4 linked regions of the Homo sapiens genome follow. Changing the gene in region 3 together with the main gene of any one other region gives a genetic interaction. Each region holds a gene or a part of one and is shown on either strand. Other genes may lie near its edges.

Region 1 (3,500 bases), on a different chromosome or scaffold from region 3:
GCCTTATGGCTGGAGGTGAGATATGCTGGCGGCAATACTGCTCTTTACTGCACTGAGATGTTTGTGTAAAGTCAGACATAAATCTGGCCTACGTGCACATCAAGGCACAGCACCTTTCCTTAAACTTATTTATGACACAGAGTCCTTTGCTCACATGTTTTTCTGCTGACCCTCTGCCCACCATTACCCTATAGTCCTGCCACATCCCCTTAGCCGAGATAGTAGAGATAGTGATCAATAAATACTGAGGGAACTCAGAGACGAGTGCTGGCGCATGTCCTCCGTATGCTGAGCACCGGTCCCCTGGCCCACTGTTCTTTCTCTATACTTTGTCTCTGTGTCTTCTTTCTTTCCTCAGTCTCTCGTCCCACCTGACGAGAAACATCCACAGGTGTGGAGGGGCTAGCCCCTTTCATGTGATGAAGGGCTCTTATAAATTATGTATTCAAAGAAATCGAGCACAGAGGAGGTTGTGGTTTCATGCCTGGGAGAGTCAGGAAGGCAGATGACAGGTTACTGGACTTCAAAGATTAGGGAACAGGCAGCTGAAAGAGCCAGTGCCCAGAGACATGATGAAGCTCGGCCACATCTGGGAGCAGCAGTGAGATTGGCTCTGCAGTTGGGGCATAGCACCAGGAGGGAGGCAGGGACCAGACTATCACGGGCTTTGGGTGTCTCCAGTTTCTGACAGCCCCTTCAGACTATTAAATCTGCACTCTCAGAATGAACAGGAATTGAGTTTGTCCTTCTCTCCAGGCGTCCACCACCCCCAAGATAGACCTGGACCCTTCTTCCCAAGTAAAGCACCCCCACAGGGACTCCTGCATTTCAAGTCCCACTTCACTAAATTGGGATAATAAGAGGGAGTCCTTTTATTCCTGCTAGGATCAAAGGAGAAATGGACTGGAGTGAAGTGGGGGTGGGAACAGGTGATCTGGCATGAGAACTATGTTGTATGTAACCAAGAACTTCTGTGTCATTCATGTTTCAGATGCAGTATGTCTTCATATACCAAGCCCTTCTGGAGCATTATCTCTATGGAGATACAGAACTGGAAGTGACCTCTCTAGAAACCCACCTGCAGAAAATTTACAACAAAATCCCAGGGACCAGCAACAATGGATTAGAGGAGGAGTTTAAGGTGAGTTGGAGCTGGATAACCTCCTTCAGATTGAAGGATCCTTGTAATCTGGGGAACATGGGATGCCTGACTGTGCATTTGCCAACAGTAAATCCCCTTGTGAGGCATGCCAGTGGTTAAGGAGATGGTCCTTTCCTCGTACTCTGGTAACTCTCAACTCATCCTGCACGTTGGAATCACTTTGGTTGTGTTAGAGTAGGGAGAAGCAGGCAACAGTATTTTAAGGCCCCTAGCCCTCCGAGGTGATTATGATACACAGCAAGAGCAGTTTTTTCTGTAAGAGCCAGATAATAAATATTTTAGGCTTTGCAGCCCACATGGTTTCTATCCAGCTACTTAGTGCTGTCTTTGTAACACAAAGGCAGCCATAACCAATAGGTAAATATAATGAGTGTGGCTGTTTTATAAAACTTTATTTGCAGGCAGCAGGCAGCAGGCCAGATTTGGCCTCTGGACCTTAGATCACTGATAGCTCCTATATGCCACTAGACAATGGTTCTCAACACACCTAAGGCATATGTCACACTGTCATCAGTAAAAGTGCTCTCCCAGGCTGGGCACAGTGGCTCACGCCTGTAATCACAGCACTTTGGGAGGCTGAGACAGGTGGATCATGAGGTCAGGAGTTCCAGACCAGCCTGGCCAATATGGTGAAACCCCGTCTCTACTAAAAATACAAAAAGTAGCCAGGCATGATGGCACATGCCTGTAGTCCCAGCTACTCAGGAGGCTGAGGCGAGAGAATTGCTTGAACCCGGAAGGCAGAGGTTGCAGTGAGCCGAAATCATGCCACTGCACTCCAGCCTGGGCGACAGAGCGAGACTCCATCTCAAAAAAAAAAAAAAAAAAAGTGCTTTCTCAGAAGCAGGAGATTCTGGGTTGGGGTGGGGAGGACCACTTAGAGAAGTTCTTCTCAAATATAGCATGTGCACAGATTTCTTTGGGATCCTGTCAAGATGTGGGTTCTGCCAGGCACGGTGGCTAATGCCTGTAATCCCAGCACTTTGGGAGGCCAAGTCAGGCAGATCACCTGAGCTCAGGAGTTCAAGACCAGCCTGACCAACACGGAGAAACTCTGTCTCTATTAAAAATACAAAATTAGCCAGGCATGGTGGCACATGCCTGTAATCCCAGCTACTTGGGAGGCTGAGGCAGGAGAATCACTTGAACCCAGGAGGCAGAGATTGCAGTGAGCTGAGATTGTGCCACTGCACTCCAGCCTGGGTGACAGAGCAAGACTCTGTCTCAAAAAAAAAAAAAAAAAAGATATTAGGTTCTGATTCAGCAGGTATGAGTTAGAGCTTGAGATTCTGCATTTCTTTTTTTCTTTTCTTTTTTTTTGAGATGGAGTTTCACTCTTGTCACCCGGGCTGGGGTGCAATGGCGCGATCTCAGCTCACTGCAACCTCTGCCTCCCGGGTTCAAGGGATTCTTCTGTCTCAGCCTCCTAAGTAGCTGGGTCTACAGGCACGTGCCACTACCCCCGGCTAATTTTTAGTAGAGACAGGGTTTCACCATGTTGGCCATGCGGGTCTCAAACTCCTAACCTCAGTTGATTGCCCACCTTGGCCTCCCAAAGTGCTGGGATTACAGGCATGAGCCACCACGCCCGGCTTGAGATTCTGCATTTCTAATAAGGTGAAGCCAACGCTGCTGGTGTATGGGCTACACTTTGAGTAGCAAATGTCAAGAAGGAGCCTCAATCGGGAAGGGAGGATGCAATTCTGAATAAGTTTTTTTGAAGAGCCTTAGGCAGCCTCTGGGGGTGGAACTGCAGAGTGGACACACTCCCTCCTACGATGCTGGAATCCCTTGCTCCAGGATCACAAAATTCCAAGCCAGGAGAATCTCAAGAGAGTCCACAGGAGCCTGGAAGGTAGCATTTCCCAAACAGTCTCTTGGCTTCAGGGTTCCAGCTGAACATATGGGAACAGAGGTCAGGGCCCTGGTGAGAAGAGCAGTATGGAGCCAGAGTGGCCTGGAGGTGCAGGCCAAGGGACAGGCATAATCTTGTCAAGTTCAGTTACTGGGATCAGTAATGTTTCCCCTCCCCTTCCCAATTCAGAAGTTAACATCAATCAAAATCCAGAATGACAAGATGCGGACTGGAAACCTTCCAGCCAACATGAAGAAGAACCGTGTTTTACAGATCATTCCATGTAAGAGCCCTCCCGCCACTCCAAAGCCTTATTGCCCCATCCCTCAATTCCCTCCACCCCTTCCATTTCTCAGGTACTAGTTAATGATTGGCGTATAGACAAGAATCATGGCATTGCCTCTTGTTGCACCCACTTAACAACATGGCGTTGCCTTTTGTTGCACCTTAGTGGCTTCTGGAAATAACGTAAAAGCCAAAGGC
Region 2 (3,500 bases), on a different chromosome or scaffold from region 3:
TACAGGCGCGTGCCACCACGCCCAGCTAATTTTTGTATTTTTAGTAGAGACGGGATTTCTACATGTTGGTCAGGCTGGTCTTGAACTTCTGACCTCGTGATCTGCCCGCCTCGGCGTCCCAAAGTGCTGGGATTACAGGCATGAGCCACCGCGCCCGGCTGTTTTTGTTTTTTGAGACAGGGTCTTGCTCTGTGCCCTGGGCTGGAGTGCAGGGGCATGAACACGGCTCACTGCAACTTGAACCTCCAGGGCTCAAACCATCTTCCTGCCTCAGCCTCCTGAGCAGCTGGGACCACAGGAGTGCTCTATCACTCCTGGCTAATTTATTTTATTTTATTTATTATTTTGTTTTTGAGACCGAGTCTCACTCTGGTTGCCCAGGCTGGAGTGCAGTGGTACGATCTCAGCTCATTGCAGCCTCTACCTCCTGGGCTCAAGTGATTCTCCCACTTCAGCCTCTGGAGCTATAGACTCTCTACACCACGCCTGGCTAATTGTTTTTGTATTTTTAGTAGAGAAGGGGTTTTGCTACATTGTCCAGGCTGGTCTCAGTCTCAAACTCCTGGACCCAAGAGATCCTCCCACCGCAGCCTCCCAGAGTGCTAGGATTACAGGTGTGAGCCACCACACACCTCGGCTCATTTTTAATTTTTTTGTAGAGATGGAGTCTCGCTGTGTTACCCGGCCTCAAGCGATCTTCCCACCTTGGCCTCTCCAACGTGCAGGGATTATAGGTGCAAACCACCACACCCGGCCATAGTGTTGTTAAGGCAGGTTGATGCCTAAACTTGAAATAATGTAGTCAGCCCATTTTGGTTAGGATGGTGATGTACTTCAAGGCGGTTCTGAAAGTGCATAATTGAATTGGTTTTTAAGCCACTGTTTTCCGCAAATGGGGCTTTCAAAGGCAGGTATTTGTCTAGTTGATGTCTGGGCTCAGCCCCTGATTTCCCTTGGTCAAGCCCCTTATCTGCCCAGACCTGGGATCCTGAGTTGCAAGTAGGGCCACTGCTGCTTAACTCTGGTGTGGGGGTCCTGGAAGTGTGAAGACGAGCACCCAGCCTGTCTGACCCCACTCCAGTGTTGAATACAGGGCACTGATTGGCAGCACTCTATGTCACCCAGGCTGGAGTGCAGTGGCGTGATCTCGGCTCACCGCAACCTCTACCTCCCGGGTTCAAGCGATTCTCCTGCCTCAGCCTCCCAAGTAGCTGGGATTACAGGCATGTGCCACCACGCCCGGTTAATTTTGTATTTTTAGTAGAGATGGGGTTTCTCCATGTTGGTCAGGCTGGTCTCGAACTCCTGACCTCAGGTGATCCACCCGCCTCGGCCTCCCAAAGTGCTGGGATTACAGGCATGGGCCACCGTGCCTGGCCAGGTGATGCTTTTAATGCATAAAGATAAAGCATCTTTTTCTCTCTTTTTTTTTTTTTTCTGAGACAGGGTCTTGCTTTGTCACCCAGGCTGGAGTGCAGTGGTGCCATTACAGCCCACTGCAGCCTCGACCTCCCGGACTTAAGCAGTCCTCCCACCTTAGCCTCCCAAAGTGCTGGGATTACAGGTGTGCAGCCCTGCACCCGGCGAGAAAGCATCTTTTCATAACTGTTTCTTTTTTTGGAGATGGAGTCTCGCTCTCGCTTTATCTACCAGACTGGAGTGAAGTGGTGCGATCTGGGCTCCTGTATCCTCTGCCTCCTGGGTTCAAGCAATTATTGTACCTCAGCCTCCTGAGTAGCTGGGATTACAGGCGTGTGCCACCATGCCTGGCTAATTTTTGTGTTTTTAGTAGAGATGGGTTTCACCATGTTGGCCAGGCTGGTCTTGAACTCCTGACCTCAGGTGATCCGCTAGCCTTGGCCTCCAAAAGTGCTGGGATTACAGACATGAGCCACCGCGCCCGGCCTCATAAGTTTTTGTTGCGGAGTCTGGGTGTCTTGGTGTGGACTCAGCCTCACTGCTAGGCACAGGGTGGTATCCAGTTCTTACAGGGATGGACAGTGCTGTAGTAAGCGCCTGCCTCTAGGTGGTCACTTCAAGCTGTGCTCAAGTAGCAGTTCCATAACATCATTACAAAAATATTAGCCTGCTGTCTGAATGGCTTACAGTTTATAATTGAGGGTGGTAAGTGGGGCTAAGATGCCTGTTTGGTGTTTTGTTTTGGATACCTGGGTATATGCACACATAGTAAGGAAATTTCCTTATTTTATTTAAGATTTTGTTTGTAGCGTGTGAATGACTTGCTTCGACCGGCCCTTTAGGAAGTGTCTGACAGGCTGCCTCCCCTGAGATCTCTCCTCCATAATTATCCTTCATTCCACGGGAGTGGGACTTTCTCATCGCTGAACAAAGGGAATAGCCAGTTTGTCCTATTGAAGTACCCGTTCTGGTTCTCATTAAGGGTTGCCTCGGAATTTGTAAATAAAGGAACGTTCAGAATAAGGACAGGGCCTTCCTTTTCTTTAGTTCATTGGTTTTTAAAATTTCTATTTTGGCTGGGCGCGGTGGCTCACGCCTGTAATCCCAGCACTTTGGGAGGCCGAGGCGGGCAGATCACGAGGTCGGGAGATCGAGACCATCCTACATGGTGAAACCCCGTCTCTACTAAAAATACAGAAAAATTAGCTGGGCATGGTGGCGGGCACCTGTAGTCCCAGCTACTTGGGAGGCTGAGGCAGGAGAATGGCGTGAACGTGGGAGGCGGAGGTTGCAGTGAGCCGAGATCGCGCCACTGCACTCCAGCCTTGGCGACAGAGCAAGACTCAAAAAAAAAAAAAAAGAAATTTCTATTTTGGGTGTTGATACTACCAACCTGTTATTTTACACATGAATGTGTATCAGAGAGCAGAGACCCTTAGCCCGTATCAGGCGTTGCTCTTGGTTGTGGCTGGAGGTGCTGGGGCTGAGCTGTGGGGCAGAGCAGGACTGGGACCCCAGGAGGGCCCCCCGCTGCTGGCGTCTCCTTTCCACGGCAGGCTGGCACCTCGCTCCACCCCTGCCTGCTCAGTTGCTGCCTCTGTCAGCCCCCCCTGGGGGCAGCCCCACCGGTACCAGCTCCTGCGGACGCCTCTGCCGTCACCCCTCCCTCCGTGGAGGGTGACCTCCTACAGCCCCTGCTGTCATCTCTTCTCTCTTCCTCATCCTATGGCTCCCCAGGTCACTTCTCGGCGTCCTCTATCCTCTGTGGGCACCCCCTCCGGTGCCTGCCCCCGTGGGTGCCCCCACTGTGCACCCTTTCCTAGGTGGGTGGCTGCCCCTTGTTGCACCCCACGCCGTGCCGGTCCTGTGGGCATCAGCGTGATCTCGGCCCCGCCCCGCCCCGCTCGGGAAAGGCCTTTTGTTCCGCGCGACACGCCCCTCCGCTGCGCGCCCGCGATTGGCTGTCCCGGGTCACGTGTGAAGCCCCGCCCCCGTGGGAACCGTCCTGGTCGTTGGGGGGGGGGGCAGCTCCCATGTGGGCGTGGCCTTGAGGCCCCGGGGGTGTAGCTGAGGGGCAGGCG
Region 3 (3,500 bases):
GACCATCCTGGCCAACATGGTGAAACCCGTGACTACTAAAAATGCAAAAATTAGCTGGCATGGCAGCGTGTGAATGTAATCCCAGCTACTCAGGAGGCTGAGGCAGGAGAATTGCTTGAACTCGGGAGGCAGGGGTTGCAGTGAGCCGAGATCAGCCACTGCACTCCAGCCTGGTGACAGAGCTAGACTCCATCTCTAAATCAATGAGTGAATGAATGAATCAATCAATCAACTAATATCACTCTATTTTCAATTCATGAAAATACCTCTAATTAGGGAATAGCCCCAGGAACAAAGCTATAAGGTATACATGATCCAAGTGTGCTTTTCTCATAACTACAGATACTTATCCTTCACATACAGTACTTTCACTGTTGGGTTTGTACCCTGAGGCAGTTTTGTGAGGAATACAATGCTTAAAAGTATACAAGCACAACATCCAAAAAGTAAGGAGGATCCAAATAGGAAGGAATCCTACAACATAAACTCTGGCATTGGTAGCCAGAAAAAAATATAGTGTTATCCTATAAATACCTGCTGGCTGGGAAACTGACAGAGGACTGATGTGATGTTGCTAGCATACTGAGCCATTTCCTTCTTGATAGACTTCTCCACATTGGGGGGAATGCGGCCAGACACACTGGTCATAATATCTTGCAATTCTAGGAGAGGCAGGGAGGGATCTCTGAGGGTTTTCATCAATCGCTCTACCCAGTCTTTTACCTAGAAAGAAAGCATTGGTAAAATAGGACCCAAGTTAACACAATCCCCCAAATAAAAAGATATATAGTTGTCATTCTGTATACGTGGGAAATTGGTTCCAGAACCACCACTCATATATGAAAATCTGCACATACTTGAGCCCTACGGAACCCATGTATAGAAATAGTTGTGGGTTCCATATCTCATCAATACTGTAATTTTGATCCATGTTTGGCTGAAAAAATCCACATATAAGTGGACCCACACAGTTCAAACCTGTATTGTTCAAGAGTCAACTATATCTGAATTCACTATCATATACTACTTCTTTTCAATAAAAATTTATATAATTTTCAATAGATATGGGGTCTTGCTATGTTGATCAGGCTGGTCTCAAACTCCTGGCCTCAAGCGATCTTTCCATCTCAGCTTCCCAAAGTGGTGAGATTACAGGCGTGAGCCAACTATCATAGAGTACTTTGAAATTGCAACGTAAGCATCTAACATTGCCCCTATTCTCCAGTTTAAAAAGGACTAATCACGGGCGGGCACAGTGGCTCACGCCTATAATCCCAGCACTTTGGGAGGCCGAGGCGGGCAGATCACAAAGTCAGGAGTTCAAGACCAGTCTGGCCAACGTGGTGAAACCCCACCTCTACTAAAAAAAAAAAAAAAAAATTAGCCGCGCCTGGTGGCACGTGCCTACAATCCCCACTACTCAGGAGGTTGAGGCAGGAGAATCACTTGAACCCAGGAGGTGGAGGTTGCAGTCAGCTGAGTTTGTGCCATTGCACTCCAGCCTGGGCAACAGAGCAAGACTCCGTCTCGAGGAAAAAAAAAAAGGAGTAATCACAATTAAATGTGAAGTCCATGACAAGGATAAGAAACATGGATTTAAAGACCTCAAGTCCCACAACTGAAGGTGAAAGAGTTCTAGGCCAAACAGCTTTCTTTTCCTCCCTCTTAAACAATCATTATGAGACTTGGAACTATTTTGGAGAATAGGTATCCCATTTGTACATCCCTTCCCCAGGAGACGTGATACATACCTTGCTGCTAAAGAAAGGATCTGGAAGGCAGTATCCATTCATTACATTGACCAGATTATCCAGGACATAATGGAACACTCGATGGAGTTTCTCGCCTCTGAGTGCCGTGCTCTGGATCCGTGGCAGACTACCTGTGTGAAGTTCAGCCTGTCAACCCCAACAAGAGATCAAGTCATCTACTACTTTTGATCTAAGGTACAAACACACCACTGCACTTAAGAGTTATCATTCAAAATCGAGACATCATACCCAGCTACCAGGAGGGAAGTCAATAGAGGAAACATCATAAGGAAATTACAGAATCTTAGTACTACAGTAACTCTTGCAAACTCTAGTTCCATAATACTACAGGCACAAATACAAGGCATAAGATTAATAGGGGACAAAGCTAAAGAAAACACTGGCAAACCAAGCATTGAAATCACTTGCCTCTCCAAACCACCAAGTTCTTTAGCTCTTAGAGAGCAATATTCGGAGCACCTTCCTACTCACCTGCTGAACCTTGCTGGGGTTGTCCAGTTGCATTTTGGCTAGTACACAGCCAGGGTCAAGAGCTGCTCCAGGTCGCTTGACGTAATGGATACAGCCAGACTCCACAGCTGTTAAGGTCATTACCATCTTCATTACCTATAGTGAAAAATAAACTAGACTCAGATTTATCTCTCTTTACACAGATGAGTGCTTAAAAGAACTAAAATTTTTCCCTTAGCATCTAAGTTGGACCACACCTAATTTGACCAAGAAAAAATGGGAATTTACCATCATCTCCTAGGGACTATCAAGGCAAGCAATTAGAAAATCTCTCAGTACCTCACTTTAGGAATTAATAACAGTTATTGACATTTCTCCTTTCTAACTTTTACAACCATTTTGGCATAATTTGTGATTATATTTGTTTTGTACTTAGAAAGTAAGGAACAATTTAATATCCTCATACCAGTGAATCCAATCTAAGACAACCAGGCCAAAACCTAAGGATCATTCTTCACTCCTCTTTCTCCCTTACCTACCAATTACCAACCCAGCCAGACATATCTTCTAAACCTTTCTCAAAAATCTTCCTCTCTTGCCAACTCTTCGGTTTACGCCTTCTTCATTTCTGGCCCAAAGTACTTCAAAGACCCCCTAAGAGATCTCCCTACTTGCTACATACCTCCCTCAAGGTCACGAAAAGCAATCTTCCTAGACCCCAAATCTCATCATACTACTTTTCCACTTAAATCTTTCAGAGATTACCTGCTGCCTCCAGGATAGTGAAAACTTACTAGTATGGTTTATAAGATCCTTCATAACCTCACATTCAAGATCTCACATTACTTCTTTAGCACCTTTGCTTGTCCCTCCCCATTAAACCTTAGTCTATTCTCAAGCCACACCAACACATACTTGCAGTTCCCTAAATACACTGTGCTGTCTTGCTTCTGTCTTTGTACATGCTATTCCTTCAACTTTAAGCACTCTTCCCTGCCCTTCTTCACCTGCTCTATCACTATCTGTCTTTCAAAACTAAGATCAAATGTCTCTTCTTTCAGAATATCTTCCCATACAAGCTTAGCTTGATTTGGGTTAGGTGACCCTCTGCACTCTATGCTTAGCTCTCTTAAAATTAATCACATGACATTTCTTGTCTGTTTTGTGCCCCACCTCCATGTATTTTCTCTGGATAGCCAGCAGTTAGGACACCTAACATTCAACAAGTGCTATTGCCTAGTATCTATTTTTAGAACTAGAGATTCCTCATTTGCCTAT
Region 4 (2,462 bases), on a different chromosome or scaffold from region 3:
GAAACAGAATCCTCTGGAACTTGAGGAAGTGAACATTTCGGTGACTTCCGCATCAGGAAGGCTAGAGTTACCCAGAGCATCAGGCCGCCACAAGTGCCTGCTTTTAGGAGACCGAAGTCCGCAGAACCTGCCTGTGTCCCAGCTTGGAGGCCTGGTCCTGGAACTGAGCCGGGGCCCTCACTGGCCTCCTCCAGGGATGATCAACAGGGCAGTGTGGTCTCCGAATGTCTGGAAGCTGATGGAGCTCAGAATTCCACTGTCAAGAAAGAGCAGTAGAGGGGTGTGGCTGGGCCTGTCACCCTGGGGCCCTCCAGGTAGGCCCGTTTTCACGTGGAGCATGGGAGCCACGACCCTTCTTAAGACATGTATCACTGTAGAGGGAAGGAACAGAGGCCCTGGGCCCTTCCTATCAGAAGGACATGGTGAAGGCTGGGAACGTGAGGAGAGGCAATGGCCACGGCCCATTTTGGCTGTAGCACATGGCACGTTGGCTGTGTGGCCTTGGCCCACCTGTGAGTTTAAAGCAAGGCTTTAAATGACTTTGGAGAGGGTCACAAATCCTAAAAGAAGCATTGAAGTGAGGTGTCATGGATTAATTGACCCCTGTCTATGGAATTACATGTAAAACATTATCTTGTCACTGTAGTTTGGTTTTATTTGAAAACCTGACAAAAAAAAAGTTCCAGGTGTGGAATATGGGGGTTATCTGTACATCCTGGGGCATTAAAAAAAAAATCAATGGTGGGGAACTATAAAGAAGTAACAAAAGAAGTGACATCTTCAGCAAATAAACTAGGAAATTTTTTTTTCTTCCAGTTTAGAATCAGCCTTGAAACATTGATGGAATAACTCTGTGGCATTATTGCATTATATACCATTTATCTGTATTAACTTTGGAATGTACTCTGTTCAATGTTTAATGCTGTGGTTGATATTTCGAAAGCTGCTTTAAAAAAATACATGCATCTCAGCGTTTTTTTGTTTTTAATTGTATTTAGTTATGGCCTATACACTATTTGTGAGCAAAGGTGATCGTTTTCTGTTTGAGATTTTTATCTCTTGATTCTTCAAAAGCATTCTGAGAAGGTGAGATAAGCCCTGAGTCTCAGCTACCTAAGAAAAACCTGGATGTCACTGGCCACTGAGGAGCTTTGTTTCAACCAAGTCATGTGCATTTCCACGTCAACAGAATTGTTTATTGTGACAGTTATATCTGTTGTCCCTTTGACCTTGTTTCTTGAAGGTTTCCTCGTCCCTGGGCAATTCCGCATTTAATTCATGGTATTCAGGATTACATGCATGTTTGGTTAAACCCATGAGATTCATTCAGTTAAAAATCCAGATGGCAAATGACCAGCAGATTCAAATCTATGGTGGTTTGACCTTTAGAGAGTTGCTTTACGTGGCCTGTTTCAACACAGACCCACCCAGAGCCCTCCTGCCCTCCTTCCGCGGGGGCTTTCTCATGGCTGTCCTTCAGGGTCTTCCTGAAATGCAGTGGTGCTTACGCTCCACCAAGAAAGCAGGAAACCTGTGGTATGAAGCCAGACCTCCCCGGCGGGCCTCAGGGAACAGAATGATCAGACCTTTGAATGATTCTAATTTTTAAGCAAAATATTATTTTATGAAAGGTTTACATTGTCAAAGTGATGAATATGGAATATCCAATCCTGTGCTGCTATCCTGCCAAAATCATTTTAATGGAGTCAGTTTGCAGTATGCTCCACGTGGTAAGATCCTCCAAGCTGCTTTAGAAGTAACAATGAAGAACGTGGACGTTTTTAATATAAAGCCTGTTTTGTCTTTTGTTGTTGTTCAAACGGGATTCACAGAGTATTTGAAAAATGTATATATATTAAGAGGTCACGGGGGCTAATTGCTGGCTGGCTGCCTTTTGCTGTGGGGTTTTGTTACCTGGTTTTAATAACAGTAAATGTGCCCAGCCTCTTGGCCCCAGAACTGTACAGTATTGTGGCTGCACTTGCTCTAAGAGTAGTTGATGTTGCATTTTCCTTATTGTTAAAAACATGTTAGAAGCAATGAATGTATATAAAAGCCTCAACTAGTCATTTTTTTCTCCTCTTCTTTTTTTTCATTATATCTAATTATTTTGCAGTTGGGCAACAGAGAACCATCCCTATTTTGTATTGAAGAGGGATTCACATCTGCATCTTAACTGCTCTTTATGAATGAAAAAACAGTCCTCTGTATGTACTCCTCTTTACACTGGCCAGGGTCAGAGTTAAATAGAGTATATGCACTTTCCAAATTGGGGACAAGGGCTCTAAAAAAAGCCCCAAAAGGAGAAGAACATCTGAGAACCTCCTCGGCCCTCCCAGTCCCTCGCTGCACAAATACTCCGCAAGAGAGGCCAGAATGACAGCTGACAGGGTCTATGGCCATCGGGTCGTCTCCGAAGATTTGGCAGGGGCAGAAAACTCTGGCAGGCTTAAGATTTGGAA

Evidence for each region.
Region 1: changes in ACACA (region 3) and PTPRA together harm fitness less than expected from each alone (positive genetic interaction), as found in Homo sapiens cells (one large-scale study listed by BioGRID).
Region 2: changes in ACACA (region 3) and UNKL together harm fitness more than expected from each alone (negative genetic interaction), as found in Homo sapiens cells (one large-scale study listed by BioGRID).
Region 4: changes in ACACA (region 3) and BCL2 together harm fitness less than expected from each alone (positive genetic interaction), as found in Homo sapiens cells (one large-scale study listed by BioGRID).

Annotation. Positions count from the first base shown.
Region 1 is NC_000020.11:3,023,481-3,026,980, forward strand, and holds part of PTPRA (receptor-type tyrosine-protein phosphatase alpha isoform 1 precursor), read left to right. Parts: intron 1-991; coding exon 992-1,141; intron 1,142-3,206; coding exon 3,207-3,300; intron 3,301-3,500. UniProt on the Homo sapiens protein: Tyrosine protein phosphatase which is involved in integrin-mediated focal adhesion formation.
Region 2 is NC_000016.10:1,408,205-1,411,704, reverse strand, and holds part of UNKL (putative E3 ubiquitin-protein ligase UNKL), read left to right. Parts: intron 1-2,812; exon of another isoform or gene 2,813-3,311; intron 3,312-3,500. UniProt on the Homo sapiens protein: May participate in a protein complex showing an E3 ligase activity regulated by RAC1. Ubiquitination is directed towards itself and possibly other substrates, such as SMARCD2/BAF60b. Intrinsic E3 ligase activity has not been proven.
Region 3 is NC_000017.11:37,242,837-37,246,336, forward strand, and holds part of ACACA (acetyl-CoA carboxylase 1), read right to left. Parts: intron 2,379-3,500; coding exon 2,244-2,378; intron 2,140-2,243; exon of another isoform or gene 1,965-2,139; intron 1,899-1,964; coding exon 1,752-1,898; intron 724-1,751; coding exon 535-723; intron 1-534. UniProt on the Homo sapiens protein: Cytosolic enzyme that catalyzes the carboxylation of acetyl-CoA to malonyl-CoA, the first and rate-limiting step of de novo fatty acid biosynthesis.
Region 4 is NC_000018.10:63,125,308-63,127,769, reverse strand, and holds part of BCL2 (apoptosis regulator Bcl-2), read left to right. Parts: 3' UTR 1-2,462. UniProt on the Homo sapiens protein: Suppresses apoptosis in a variety of cell systems including factor-dependent lymphohematopoietic and neural cells. Regulates cell death by controlling the mitochondrial membrane permeability. Appears to function in a feedback loop system with caspases.